4 separate regions of the Homo sapiens genome follow, and regions 1, 2 and 3 are each reported to be linked to region 4. The links are microRNA targets in miRTarBase. Many come from high-throughput screens and were not tested one by one. Region 4 holds a microRNA gene; each other region holds the end of a gene's coding sequence.
The links. Region 4 holds the annotated microRNA hsa-miR-4524a-3p (UGAGACAGGCUUAUGCUGCUAU, at 904-925, opposite strand). A microRNA usually pairs through its seed, bases 2 to 8, with sites in the 3' UTR of a target mRNA and lowers its output. Matches are read on the target gene's strand: a 7mer-m8 pairs with bases 2 to 8, a 7mer-A1 pairs with bases 2 to 7 and ends in A, and an 8mer does both.

Region 1: the mRNA of COA7 is a reported target of hsa-miR-4524a-3p. Seed matches in the 3' UTR shown: 8mer at 2,377-2,384 and 8mer at 2,675-2,682.
Region 2: miRTarBase lists PARD6G as a target of hsa-miR-4524a-3p. Seed matches in the 3' UTR shown: 7mer-m8 at 1,071-1,077 and 7mer-m8 at 1,238-1,244.
Region 3: the mRNA of KCNMB1 is a reported target of hsa-miR-4524a-3p. Seed matches in the 3' UTR shown: 7mer-A1 at 2,125-2,131, 7mer-m8 at 818-824 and 7mer-m8 at 126-132.

The regions. Positions count from the first base shown.
Region 1 is chr1:52,685,266-52,688,265 of GRCh38, reverse strand. It overlaps COA7 (cytochrome c oxidase assembly factor 7), which reads left to right. Exons shown (of 3, transcript NM_023077.3): 3 at 98-3,000. The coding sequence ends at 546. Among named protein-coding and RNA genes, the nearest start is that of COA7, 12 kb to the left of the region's middle. RefSeq lists a silencer at 103-303.
Region 2 is chr18:80,157,152-80,160,250 of GRCh38, reverse strand. PARD6G (par-6 family cell polarity regulator gamma) reads left to right here. Exons shown (of 3, transcript NM_032510.4): 3 at 1-3,019. The coding sequence ends at 480. The region is part of intron 1 of PARD6G-AS1 (PARD6G antisense RNA 1); the gene reads right to left. Among named protein-coding and RNA genes, the nearest start is that of PARD6G-AS1, 11 kb to the right of the region's middle. RefSeq lists a silencer at 432-501.
Region 3 is chr5:170,376,224-170,379,322 of GRCh38, forward strand. It overlaps KCNMB1 (potassium calcium-activated channel subfamily M regulatory beta subunit 1), which reads right to left. Exons shown (of 4, transcript NM_004137.4): 4 at 1-2,750. The coding sequence ends at 2,481. It also overlaps a transcript of KCNIP1 not described here. Among named protein-coding and RNA genes, the nearest start is that of KCNMB1, 12 kb to the right of the region's middle.
Region 4 is chr17:69,098,667-69,101,765 of GRCh38, forward strand. MIR4524A (microRNA 4524a) reads right to left here and starts at 966; the gene lies at 898-966. It overlaps ABCA6 (ATP binding cassette subfamily A member 6), which reads right to left. Exons shown (of 39, transcript NM_080284.3): 22 at 2,131-2,268. It overlaps MIR4524B (microRNA 4524b), which reads left to right and starts at 876; the gene lies at 876-990.

The sequences.
Region 1 (3,000 bases), not on the chromosome of region 4:
TCTCCAAAAAAAAAAAAAAAATTCACTGACTTTGGCCTGAGACATTTAGGTTGTGCCCTGGCTTGGGTTTATTTTTTCCTACTTTCCTTCCTCTCAGGTGGTCTGACCCAGGACCTGAAAGCTGCCGCCAGGTGCTTTTTGATGGCGTGTGAGAAGCCTGGAAAGAAGTCAATAGCAGCATGTCACAACGTTGGCCTCCTGGCACATGATGGACAGGTTAATGAGGATGGCCAGCCTGACTTGGGAAAGGCCAGGGACTACTACACAAGGGCCTGTGATGGTGGCTATACTTCCAGTTGCTTCAACCTCAGTGCCATGTTCCTGCAGGGTGCCCCAGGCTTTCCCAAGGACATGGACCTGGCATGTAAATACTCCATGAAAGCCTGTGACCTGGGTCATATCTGGGCCTGTGCCAATGCCAGTCGCATGTACAAGCTGGGGGATGGTGTTGATAAGGATGAGGCCAAGGCCGAGGTGCTAAAAAATCGAGCCCAGCAGCTACACAAAGAACAGCAGAAAGGTGTCCAACCCTTAACATTTGGGTAATGTGGTCCACCCTCCCTCCCAGGCAACAAACTGCTTGAGGCTGGCAGCTCCTGTTTCTGAAGACTGATGCAGCCCTTGAAGGTCAACCTGCTGGAGCAAAAAAACTTGGGACTTGAATTTGTAGCTCCATTTACATGGATCCATTGCCCCAGCTACTGGAGTATAGCCTACAATGTTTATTTCAGTCAATATTCCTTTATCTGGGTGTTCTGTACAATGTTTATTACAGTCAATATTCCTTCATCTGGATGTTCTGTGAAGATAGCCATGTTTATGGGGGTCTTAGTTTTCAAACTCTGGCAACTCTGTGAAAAATAGGAGCAAACTAGAGAGCCCTGGAGATTGGTAGTAGGGAAGGGAGGATAGCAGGAAGTTTGAAAAATTAGCAGCCCCGGGGCCTAAAGGAATCAGCTGTCATCATTTTCATCATTATTATTTTGGTTAGGATGGCTTGAAAATCAGAACGTATCTTGGTTTACGTAATTGAGGTCTTAAAGAACTAAGAACAGTTAAATAGTCACAACTACCACCCTCTGACTTACATAATCATTGGTGTGGGCTTCGTTTTGCCTTTAGAGTCACATCTTTCAGTAAATTCACAGAGATCAAGAGGGACGTGCAACATACAGCTTAAAGGCTGTTATGCTTCAGGGTTGCTGAAGAAGATGAAACATCAGCCTGCCATCGTCTAGAAGAGACATTGGCAGTTAAAAATTAGCACCTCCAGTGTAGTCGCCTGGCACTGCCCATCATGCTGAGGGAGCAGATTCTTCCCAAGGCAGCTTCAGCTAGGAGTTTGTAAGCAAGGACTTTGTGACACATTTGTCCCCTGGAACTGAGCCTTTTTAACTGTCCCTGTGAATGAACAATTTTGAGTGACCTACGGTTTGTGTTAATTAGTGTTCTTTCCAGATTCCAGGTACCGTAGAGAGTATGTTCTTTGTGGTGGTTGTGCCTTTTAAGAACATTTGTGGCCGGGCACGGTGGCTCACGCCTGTAACCCCAGCACTTTGGGTGGCCAAGGCGGGTGGATCACGAGATCAGGAGATCATGACCATCCTGGCTAACACGGGGAAACCCCATCTCTACTAAAAAATACAAAAAATTAGCCGGGCGTGGTGGCAGGCGCCTGTAGTCCCAGCTACTGGGGAGGCTGAGGCAGGAGAATTGCTTGAACCCGGGAGGCGGAGCTTGCAGTGAGCTGAGATTGCGCCACTGCCCTCCAGCCTGGGCGATAGAGTGAGACTCCGTCTCAAAAAAAAAAAAAAATTTGCTTTTTCTGTTGTCTCCCCAGCTTGTCACCAGGGGGCGAGCTTGCCATTTCCCTGCTGGTAACAATACCATTCTGTCACCATCTACTGTTTTAGGCTTCCGTTTTGCAGCCGTCCTGAAAGGAAGGCTTGCTGTGTAAATGAAGGCTTGTGAGCACAGCAGCCAGCCTCTCAAGTTGATAGAGGACAGGGACTTCCCCAAGTGCACAGAGGAGATTTCAAAAGACATCAAATTCACTTTTTAAAAATGTAAAGTAGCTTTTGGTGTGCTTAAACTAGGTCAGGCCAGGCGTGGTGGCTCATGCCTGTAATCCTAGCATTTTGGGAGGCCAAGGCAGGTGGATCACTTGAGGTCAGGAGTTCGAGATCAGCCTGGCCAACATGACGAAACCCCTTTCTCTACTAAAAATATAAAAATTAGCTGGGCGTGGTGATGCATACCTGTAATCCCAGCTACTTCGGAGGCTGAGGCAGGAGAATCACTTGAACCTGGGAGGCAGAGGTTGCAGTAAACTGAGACTGTGCCACTGCACTCCAGCCTGGGCAACACAGCAAGACTCTGTCTCAAAAACAAAAACAAAACTAGGCCAGGTGCAGTGGCTCACGCTTGCAATCCCAGCACTTTGGGAGGCCGAGGCAGGCGGATCACGAGGTCAGGATTTCGAGAACAGCCTGGCCAACATAGTGAAACCTCGTATCTACTAAAAATACAAAAATTATCTGGGTGTGGTGGTGGGCACCTGTTGTCCCAGCTATTCAGGAGGCTGAGGCAGGAGAATCGCTTGAACCCAGGAGGTGGAGGTTGCAGTGAGCCAAGACCATGCCATTGCACTCCAGCCAGGTAACAGAGTGAGACTCTGTCTCAAAAAAACACACACACACACACACACAAAACTGTAGGTCAAAAAACATGAAAATATGTTCAACATCACTAATTAGGGAAATGTAAATCAAAAACCACAATGAACTCTTAAAATTCAACAGTAAGAAAACAACCTGATTAAAAACAGGCCAAAACCCTTAACATATCTCAGCAAAGAAGATAGACAGGTGGCAAATAAGCATATGAAAAGATGTTCCATATAACATGTCATCAGGAAAATGCAAGTTAGAACAACAGACCACTATACAACTATTAGAATGGCCAAAATCCAAAGCACCGACAGCATGAAATGCTGGGAAA
Region 2 (3,099 bases), not on the chromosome of region 4:
GAGGTGAACGGCATTGAGGTGGCCGGGAAGACGCTGGACCAGGTCACGGACATGATGATCGCCAACAGCCACAACCTCATCGTCACCGTCAAGCCCGCCAACCAGCGCAACAACGTGGTGCGCGGCGGCCGCGCGTTGGGCAGCTCGGGACCGCCCTCGGACGGCACCGCGGGCTTCGTGGGTCCCCCCGCCCCGCGCGTCCTGCAGAACTTCCACCCCGACGAGGCGGAGAGCGATGAGGACAACGACGTCGTCATCGAGGGCACACTGGAGCCTGCACGTCCCCCCCAGACCCCGGGCGCGCCCGCAGGCAGCCTCTCCCGGGTCAATGGCGCGGGCCTGGCGCAGCGGCTGCAGCGGGACCTGGCCCTGGACGGCGGCCTCCAGCGGCTGCTCAGCTCCCTGCGGGCCGACCCCCGTCACAGCCTGGCGCTGCCGCCAGGCGGCGTGGAGGAGCACGGGCCCGCGGTCACGCTCTAGACTCCCGAGAGGCCCCCAAATCCTAGCTCCAGTTCCCCGGTAAGGACAGGGACAGGACCTGCAGACTGCATCCGCTCATTTTTTGTTGTTTTTGTGACCACAAAAACAACGCTGCTCTTTGTTTCAACTTCCGGATATAAAAACACAAGTATTGCCTATTTTTATAGAATTTCGCCACAGAACTTAAAATGAACGCCTGTAGAGACACTCTATACCAGGCCTGAGTGCAGGTCTTGGCGCCTTTGCAAAGTGATAGAAAAGATCTGACCAAGTGCAAAAAAATGCTTTTTAAAATTTTTACAAATACTTTGTTTTTAAAGTGAAGCTTTAAAATTACTTTTTTAAAATAGTCAAATTCATGTTTTTAAGTAAGTTGGCCCATGCAACATATCTCAGCATTCTTGCTGTGCTCTCTGCTGACTTGCAGGCGAGGCCGACTGTGCTGATGTACGTGACAAGAGGCTGGTTTTTAATAACGAATGCAGCCAGGTGCAGTGGCTCACGTCTGTAATCCCAGCACTTTGGGAGGCCTACGTGGGCTGATCACGAGGTCAGGAGGTCGAGACCAGCATGGCCAACATGGTGAAACCCTGTCTCTACTAAAAATATAAAAATTAGCCAGGTGTGGTGGCAGGCGCCTGTAATCCCAGCTACCTTGGGAGGCTGAGGCAGGAGAATCGCTTGAACCCGGGAGGCAGAGGTTGCAGTGAGCTGAGATCGCACCACTGCACTCCAGCCTGGGTGACAGAGCAAGACTCTGTCTCGGGAAAAAAAAAAAATACACCCAAACCTGTCCATGTACAACCATGGAGATGAATTCCAGATTTTCACACTGTTCATAGTCATAATTCGGTTGGGACAGGAGAGCTCCCACCAGCACACTTATGGCACCCGCAGCTGTGGAATTGTTCCGGGGCTTTTTTTTGTTTGTTTTGAGACATAGTGTCTTGTTCTGTCATCCAAGCTGGAGGGATCTCAGCTCACTGCAACCTCCGCCTCCTGGGTTCAAGCAATTCTCCTGCCTCAGCCTCCCAAGGAGCTGGGACAGGCACATGCCACCATACCCAGCTAATTTTTGTATTTTTAGTAGAGATGGGATTTCACCACGTTGGTCAGGCTGGTCTTGAACTCCTGACCTCAGGTGATACGGTCCCCCCTCAGCCTCCAAAAATGCTAGGATTATAGACGTGAGCCACAGCACCAGACCAGGGGCTATTTTTGTGACCCACATAGGTGGCCCATTCAGCCTCAAGGGGAAATCCAGGGTAGGAAGCAGCAGCTCTGCTGGACTGGGCTCAGCAGTCCCATTTGGGATGTAAGCCTCTATTGCCTCTAAGATGACCCTTTTCCTGTGGGTTGACTGACTCTGAGGGCGATTTCGGAAATGTTTTCAGCAGAAATGAAGGATAAGCATCGCACATGTCCAGCAATGTCTTTGAGAATGCAGTCATTTGCACGTGAGTTCTCATCTTTGTTTTCTGAAACAGACGTTTCTTTTAGTAAGTCACAATACATGCTAATTTTCATTTCTAGAATGGTCACTGGCAGTTCTCACTTTTAACTATAAGAAGTCACGTGGAACTTAGTGATTTTTAACAAATACTAAATTCATCCTCACTTTATGTTGATCTTCCAGCAACGTTTATATATTTAGTAATTTTAAAAATTCCTATTTGATACAATTAAATTTTATATAATGTGTTTTGCTTGAATAAAATGTTACATTTATACTTTGAGAACTCTGACCAAATCTTTCATACAGATACAGGTAAAGAAATATTTTTCTAGGTTGTCGGAGCTGCGTACCTCCCGCTGCTTCTCCTTGTGGTCCAGCACCACCTGCTGGTCAGTGGCAGAACTGTCCTGACTTCGTGAACATGGAACTGCTAAGAGGGAAAACTGCATCTCAGCATTTTCATTTTTTCTGAATATTAAGTGAAAAGCAAGTTCTATTTTTAAGAAATAGCTTTTGCTGAGGAGTTGTGAATTCCTGCACCTGTGTTTGATGTTATTTGTATGCAATGGATTGCTGGCCCTTTGTTCCTAAGCAAGAGAAGACCAAAGATGCTTCCCCATGACCTCTCCGGTGAGGATCCGCACCCCCCGGACTTGCTCTCTGATGAAGGGCATGTCGTTCAGTGCCCCAGCAGTCAGAAGCAGTTTTTGTGGAACTAAAACTAATAATGTTACCCTCACAAAGGAAATGTTCTTTTACTAAGTTATTGCTGATTCTTGAATGTCTGTTATATAACTGGGTCGGCTATCAAGAAGGAAGGTTATATTTCTTATCACATTTTAAGTTGTTAAGCAAATGTGAGTTTTTTTTTAAGAAATGAGGCTTTCACTGAGATTTGTGTGCTATTCATAATTTTAGGAATTACTGCTTAGAACAGCTGCTTGGGTGTATTTTTCTACACAGGTCTGTACTTCTGCCACTTTCTCCTTTTAAAAAAACAAAACTATGCATATTATGTATTAAAGTTTTCTTGGTTTTATATATCAGAGAATAAAAACTTTTTTGACTTTTGAGTAAACAAAATGCATGAATATTTCACCTGTGTTCTAAGTGGAAGAGAATACCAGAGATAAAGTAATCCCTCAAAGAGAATGACAGATTTA
Region 3 (3,099 bases), not on the chromosome of region 4:
GATCTCGGCTCACTGCAAGCTCCGCCTCCCGGGTTCACGCCATTCTTCTGCCTCAGCCTCCTGAGCAGCTGGGACTACAGGCGGCTACCACCACGCCCGGCTATGATTTTTTCTATTTTTTAGTAGAGACAGGGTTTCACCGTGTTAGCCAGGATGGTCTCGATCTCCTGACCTCGTGATCTGCCCACCTCGGCCTCCCAAAGTGCTGGGATTACAGGTGTGAGCCACCACGCCCGGCCGACTTTTTCTTGTTACTAACAATAGCTCTTTTTCCCTGATCCTCTCCCTCCTCCTACCTCCCGCCCTCCAATAGGCCTCAGTGTGTGTTGTTCCCCTCTTTGTGTCCATGTGTTTTCATCATTTAGCTCCCACTTATAAGTGAGAATATACAGTATTTAGTTTTGTGTCCCTGTGTTAGTTTGCTAAGGATAATATTTGGCCTCCAGCTCCATCCATGTCCCTGCAAAGGACATGATCTCCTTCCTTTTTATGGCTGCATAATATTCCATGACGTATACGTACCACATTTTCTTTAATAATGGGTACTAGACTTAATACCTGGGTGATGAAATAATCTGCACAACAAACTCCCTTGACACAAGTGTACCTATGTAACAAACCTGAACGTGTACCCTGCAACTTAAAATGAAAGTTAAGAAAAAAACACACACACAAAACAAACAAAAAAAACTATAGTTGCCATTTTAAACACCTATGATGTGTCAAACATTCCTTCAGCCCTCCCAACTATCCAGAAAGAGTCCTTCTTTTATAGATGAAAAAACTAAGAATCAAAGAGATGAAATCGGGCAGAGTAGAGACAGGATTCAAACCCAAGATCTGCATCTTGGACTCACAACACTGGAAGAAACTTCAGACACCAGCCTAACTTCACACCCAGCTCAGGACTGGCCCTGCCGAATGGTCACTCACCTGCTCTGAAAATCCTCGCGACAGGACGCTCACTTCCTACACCGGTAGTTCTCTGGCTCGAGGTGTGCCACAGAATCCCCTACGCATTGTTAGAACACAGAACATTGCTACCCCCACCCCGTGCAGGGCTTCTGGCGTGGTGGGGCTGGGACAGGGGCCTGAGAGTGTGCATTTCTCACAAGCTGCCACAGGATCCTGATGCTGCTGGCCCAGGGACCACACTTGGACAGTCATCGTTCTAGGAAAACTTCCTGGAGTGGGAATGGTAAAGGTGATGGCTTCTTCCCATTTTGCCCTTTTCAAATCTGAGATAGGCTTCCCCAGCAGGCTCAGTGCCAGAGTCCATACCCTCAATTTAAATAACAAATCCTCCTCTATATCATGACCTTTCCTCCAGAGGGTTGTTTTTCATTTTTTGTTTTTTGTTTTTTTTTTGAGACGGAGTCTTGTTCTATCACCAGGCTGGAGTGCAGTGGCACAATCTCGGCTCACTGCAAGCTCCGAACCCCGGGTTCACGCCATTCTCCTGCCTCAGCCTCCTGAGTAGCTGGGACCACAGGTGCCCACCACCACGCCTGGCTAATTTTTTGTATTTTTAGTAGAGACGGGGTTTCACCATGTTAGCCAGGATGGTCTTGATCTCCTGACCTCGTGATCCACCAGCCTCGGCCTCCCAAAGTGCTGGGATTACAGGAGTGAGCCACCGCGCCCGGCCCAGAGGGGTTTTTAAGATTGTGTGTTCTGAATGGCCTGTCTCTGACTGGAACCCAACTCCGTCCCCAGACCCACTTCCATCTTTTTCTGTGAGGGGGACACACTCTTTCAACTTTTCCAAAATGGCATCTACCATGGCTTTTCTGATTAAAAGCAAACGAAACACACCCTTCCTATAATCAAAAATTTAGAAAAGCAGCAAAAATAAAAAGGGGATAAGGAAGAAAACAGAAATTAACCACCATCCCACCGCTAAAATTTTGATGAGTTCTCATGTGTTTCCTTGCAGCTGATTGTTGTTTGGCATACATTTATTAATATTGGAATTAAAAATATATATGGCACTTTATATCCTAGAAAATAGTAATACTGTAAATGTGTTCTAGAAATGGGAGCTGCTGTTGCTCTTATTAGAGAATTCAAACAAAGAAGGGAGGCTCGCTGGGGACAGCTTCTGGGGGAGGATGGGTACCGCTTTGAGACAACAGGGAGAACTCAGGCACAGAGGTGACGATCATCGTTCTCTGTGGGGCACATAGTGATGCAGCCGGAAACAGGTATGAGTCAGTTGAGTGGGGACAGGTAATAGAGAGCTAGAACTGGCTGGCCTTATGGCCTCCAAGGCATTGGGGAGCCACTGTACATTCTTGAGCAGGCAATGACTTCACAAAAGGATTTCTCAAAGGTTAGTCCTGCAACAGAAGACAGCGTGGATTGGACTGGAAGAGTGGGAGGGCAGGTGGAGAAGGCATTGTGCTGCAAGTGGGGAGCAGCCCTGGGGGCCCAGCCAGTCCCCTGTGCCCTGACAAGTGGTATGGCATGGATGGATGGCTCTACTTCTGGGCCGCCAGGATGGACAGGTACTGGTTGCTCTTCACCATGGCGATAATGAGGAGGCCACCGGTCAGCAGGAAGGTGGGCCAGAAGAGGGAGAAGAGGAGGGCCTGGGGCCCGTAGAGGCGCTGGAATAGGACGCTGGTTTCGTTCCCCCGAGGTGCGGAGAAGCAGTAGAAGACCTGCTGCTCTTGGAATTTGGCTCTGACCTTCTCCACGTCGGCCCGGGCCGTCTGGTAATTGTCCACGCTGCCTGGGATGTAGGAGCACTGTGGGGAGAAACAAGAGCAGCTGTGGGCTTGGAAATCCCCATTTCTTAGCCAAGGGCTTGATATGGAGTAAAGAAAAATACCAGCTTTGTAGTCGGGCCCCTGGATTGGAGTCGGGGCTTTGGTCTAAAGCTTGGCAGGCCATGCGCTGTACAGGTCTGGAGAGCACGCTCTCATTTGTGTCTTGTGTGTGGATGGCGGTGCTGGAGCTGCTCGGGGTACAGGCTACACACCTGGGCGCAGGTCCTACCTTGGAGTCCTGGCTCTGCTTGGATTGGCTGTAGAATTTTTGGCAAATTTCTCACTCTTTCTGAGCCCTGAAGCTTCATCACTTAAATGGGTGAATATC
Region 4 (3,099 bases):
GCTACAACATAGACGAACCTGGAAAATATGCTAAGTGAAATAAACCAGTTACAAAAAGACAAATATTCCACTTATATAAGGTTTCTAAACTAGTAATATTCATAGAAACATAATAGGATGGTTATTTCCAGGGGATGGGGGAGGGGGAAAGCTAATTGGCATCGAGTTTCAATTCCGCAAGACGGCAAAGTTCTGGAGATGCATTTCACAACAATGTGAATATACTTAATACTACTCAACTGTACACTTGCAAACAGCTAAAATGGTCAATTTTATATCATGTATTATTACCACAACAAAAAAACAATAATTCAGAAGTTAGGACCTCTGATGAACATATAATTCAGGCCTGAGTAGCACGTCTTTCTGAGCAAACCCAGAGATGGAAACCTCAGTAGCTGGGTGGATGTGTTCTGAAGCACAGAACCAAGAAGAAAACTTGTTGCTGCTTGTCTTAACTTCAGGGAAAGGAACTTTAAATCACTACCCCCAAATCAGCATCCACTTGAGGCTAGGCCAAGTGGACACTCTAGCAGCATCTAGGACCACCTCATGGATATAATTACAGGATAACAGCATGAGCCTGTCTCAAAATAATTCCACAATTATTTAACTTTATTTAAGACTTTGAGGGCTATGTCTATAAATTCTGTTTTTCATCATAGGAATGAGGGAGGAAAGGTGTGTGCCATGGGGAAGTGGGAGTGGGGAACAGGTTTCTAATAGAGTAGCTATGGGCTTCAGTCCATTTTGATCCTGAGCAAACACAATGGCATTAGGAAGCTAATAATTCAGAAGTTAGGACCTTTGATGAACACATAATTCAGGCCTGAGCAGCATGTCTTTCTGAGCAAACCCAGAGATGGAAACCTCAGTAGCTGGGTGGATGTGTTCTTTTGAAGGATAGCAGCATAAGCCTGTCTCAAAATAATTCTGCAGTGAGACAGGTTCATGCTGCTATCGTTCCAAAGAGGAAGGGTAATCACTGTCTCTTTCTGCTACTCCTCTGGTTCCACTTTCTGGAGAATTCCCTTCAGACACCCCTTCCCTCGAGTCATCCTGTGCAGCAGACCTGTTTACGTGATCAGTCGGTCATACTCAACTCACGGAGGTATGTGTCTGTCACGAACATCTCAAGTACTGTATATTTCATCCCCATTGTTCCCATGGCTTACAGAAAACCTGTGCTTGCATATACTCCCAGCACCACTGATTCAGTGAAGCCAAAACTGAGCTTCACACTTTTGTCACAAAATGGACTTCCCTTTGGATGGCTTCATTTCTAATCCTGCTTCTTGATGTTTCAGACTTCTGGTGTGAAACAGTTGGAGTCAGCTTTGAGACACCCCTGTTGGTATCAGGCAGGGTCTAACCAGAAAACCATGACTACGTTAAGTTCTTAGAGTGCAATTCCTTATGACATGGTTAGGTGGGTGATGAGCATCCCACAAAGATGGTGAAGTGAGAAGCAAGCTATTGTTGCTTCTGGGCTTCAGGAACAGCAGAAGGAGGTGATGTGACTGGAGCCCAATGTAGGGGGTCCTCTGCTCTTCTGTCTCCCACCACTGCTTTCTAGTGTCCAAACTGTCTGAAGCCAGACTATAGCCAACTGACACAGAATCCAATGCAGCCTGTGTGTATTAGGCTCCCTCACAACATAGAGCAACTATGAGTAGGTGAATAAATAAATCAACAGATAGCCCCAGAACTGGCAGATTCTCCTTCATATTAGTCTGTCTACTACACATTTAGTCAATGGAGGGTCCACTAACTAATTATAATAGATTTATATGTAACCAGGGTTACAAGTTCTCCTGATTTCCAAGTCAGTGTTTTCTTTTTTCTGTTTCTCTTTCTCATACACTTCCACAATCAAGTATGTACAACTTTTCAAAACATTGCCTAGAAGACTGACAAAATATTGAAAAGTATTCCCTCACGATAATTATCTGATAACTTGGCAGGAAAAAAAAATCCTGTTTTGTTTGCTATAACCCATTGAAAATATTAGGATAAAATAATAATTTTCAGGCTTAACAATCACTTATGGATATTTAAAAGCTAAAGAGAGAAAACATAGGCTATTTGTCCAATTCTTAATTGTTTAGACTCAGTAAATCCAATACTTACAAGAGGAAATGGGCTTGACTCAATTCGAATATGTTGTGTGTGATTAAACATTTGAAGTAGCCCATTGCTGATAATATTCATAAGAATTGGAAAACAGTGCAATCTCTTGGTATTACACACAACTGAAAATCTATAATCCTTAAAACAGAAACAAATAAATAATGTTAATGCTAAATTCTTAAAGAACAAAGGCAAGGTTTATGTATAAAAGATCCTAACAGTGCCACATGCTTGTTGTGTGTCCATCTTCAAGTGAACTAAACTTTCTGAGCTTTACCTTCCTCATCTATGAAAAGGAAATACTAAATGGGTTGTTATAGGGCTTAAATGACACTCTATTCATGTACATTAAGCTCTAGCACAGAGTCAGCATACAATCAATATGAATTTTTATTTGTATTACTAATTTTAGATAATTTTGTCTCCATTTTGCTGATGGGGAAATTTCATTTAGTAGAGTTTAAAAGTCTCCCTGACAAGGAGATGCTGTCAGTTTATGATGAAGAAGCAAAGGAAGATTGGGCATGGTGGCTCACACCTGTAATTCTAGCACTTTGGGAGGCCAAGGCGGGCAGATCACTTGAGGTTAGGAGTTTGAGACTAGCCTGGCCAACATAGCAAAACCCTATGTTTACTAAAAAATACAAAAATTAGCCAGGTGTGGTGGCACACATCTGTAATCCCAGCTACTTGGAAGGCTGAGGCAGAAGAATCACTTAAACTCAGAAGGCAGAGGTTGTAGTGAGCTGCGATCACACCACTGCACTCCAGCCTGGGTGACAGAGCGAGACTCTGTCTCAAAAAAAAAAAAAAAAGCAGCAGCAGCAGCAAAGGAATGCTGGCCTTCTGGATAGGAGATAAGCATGGAGTTCATTAAATATTCATCCTTACCCTGCCAAAGAAGCATTTCCCCACTTCCTAAAGCAATCTTTATATTTATGTACTTCATGTTTAGGAAAATGTTCATTA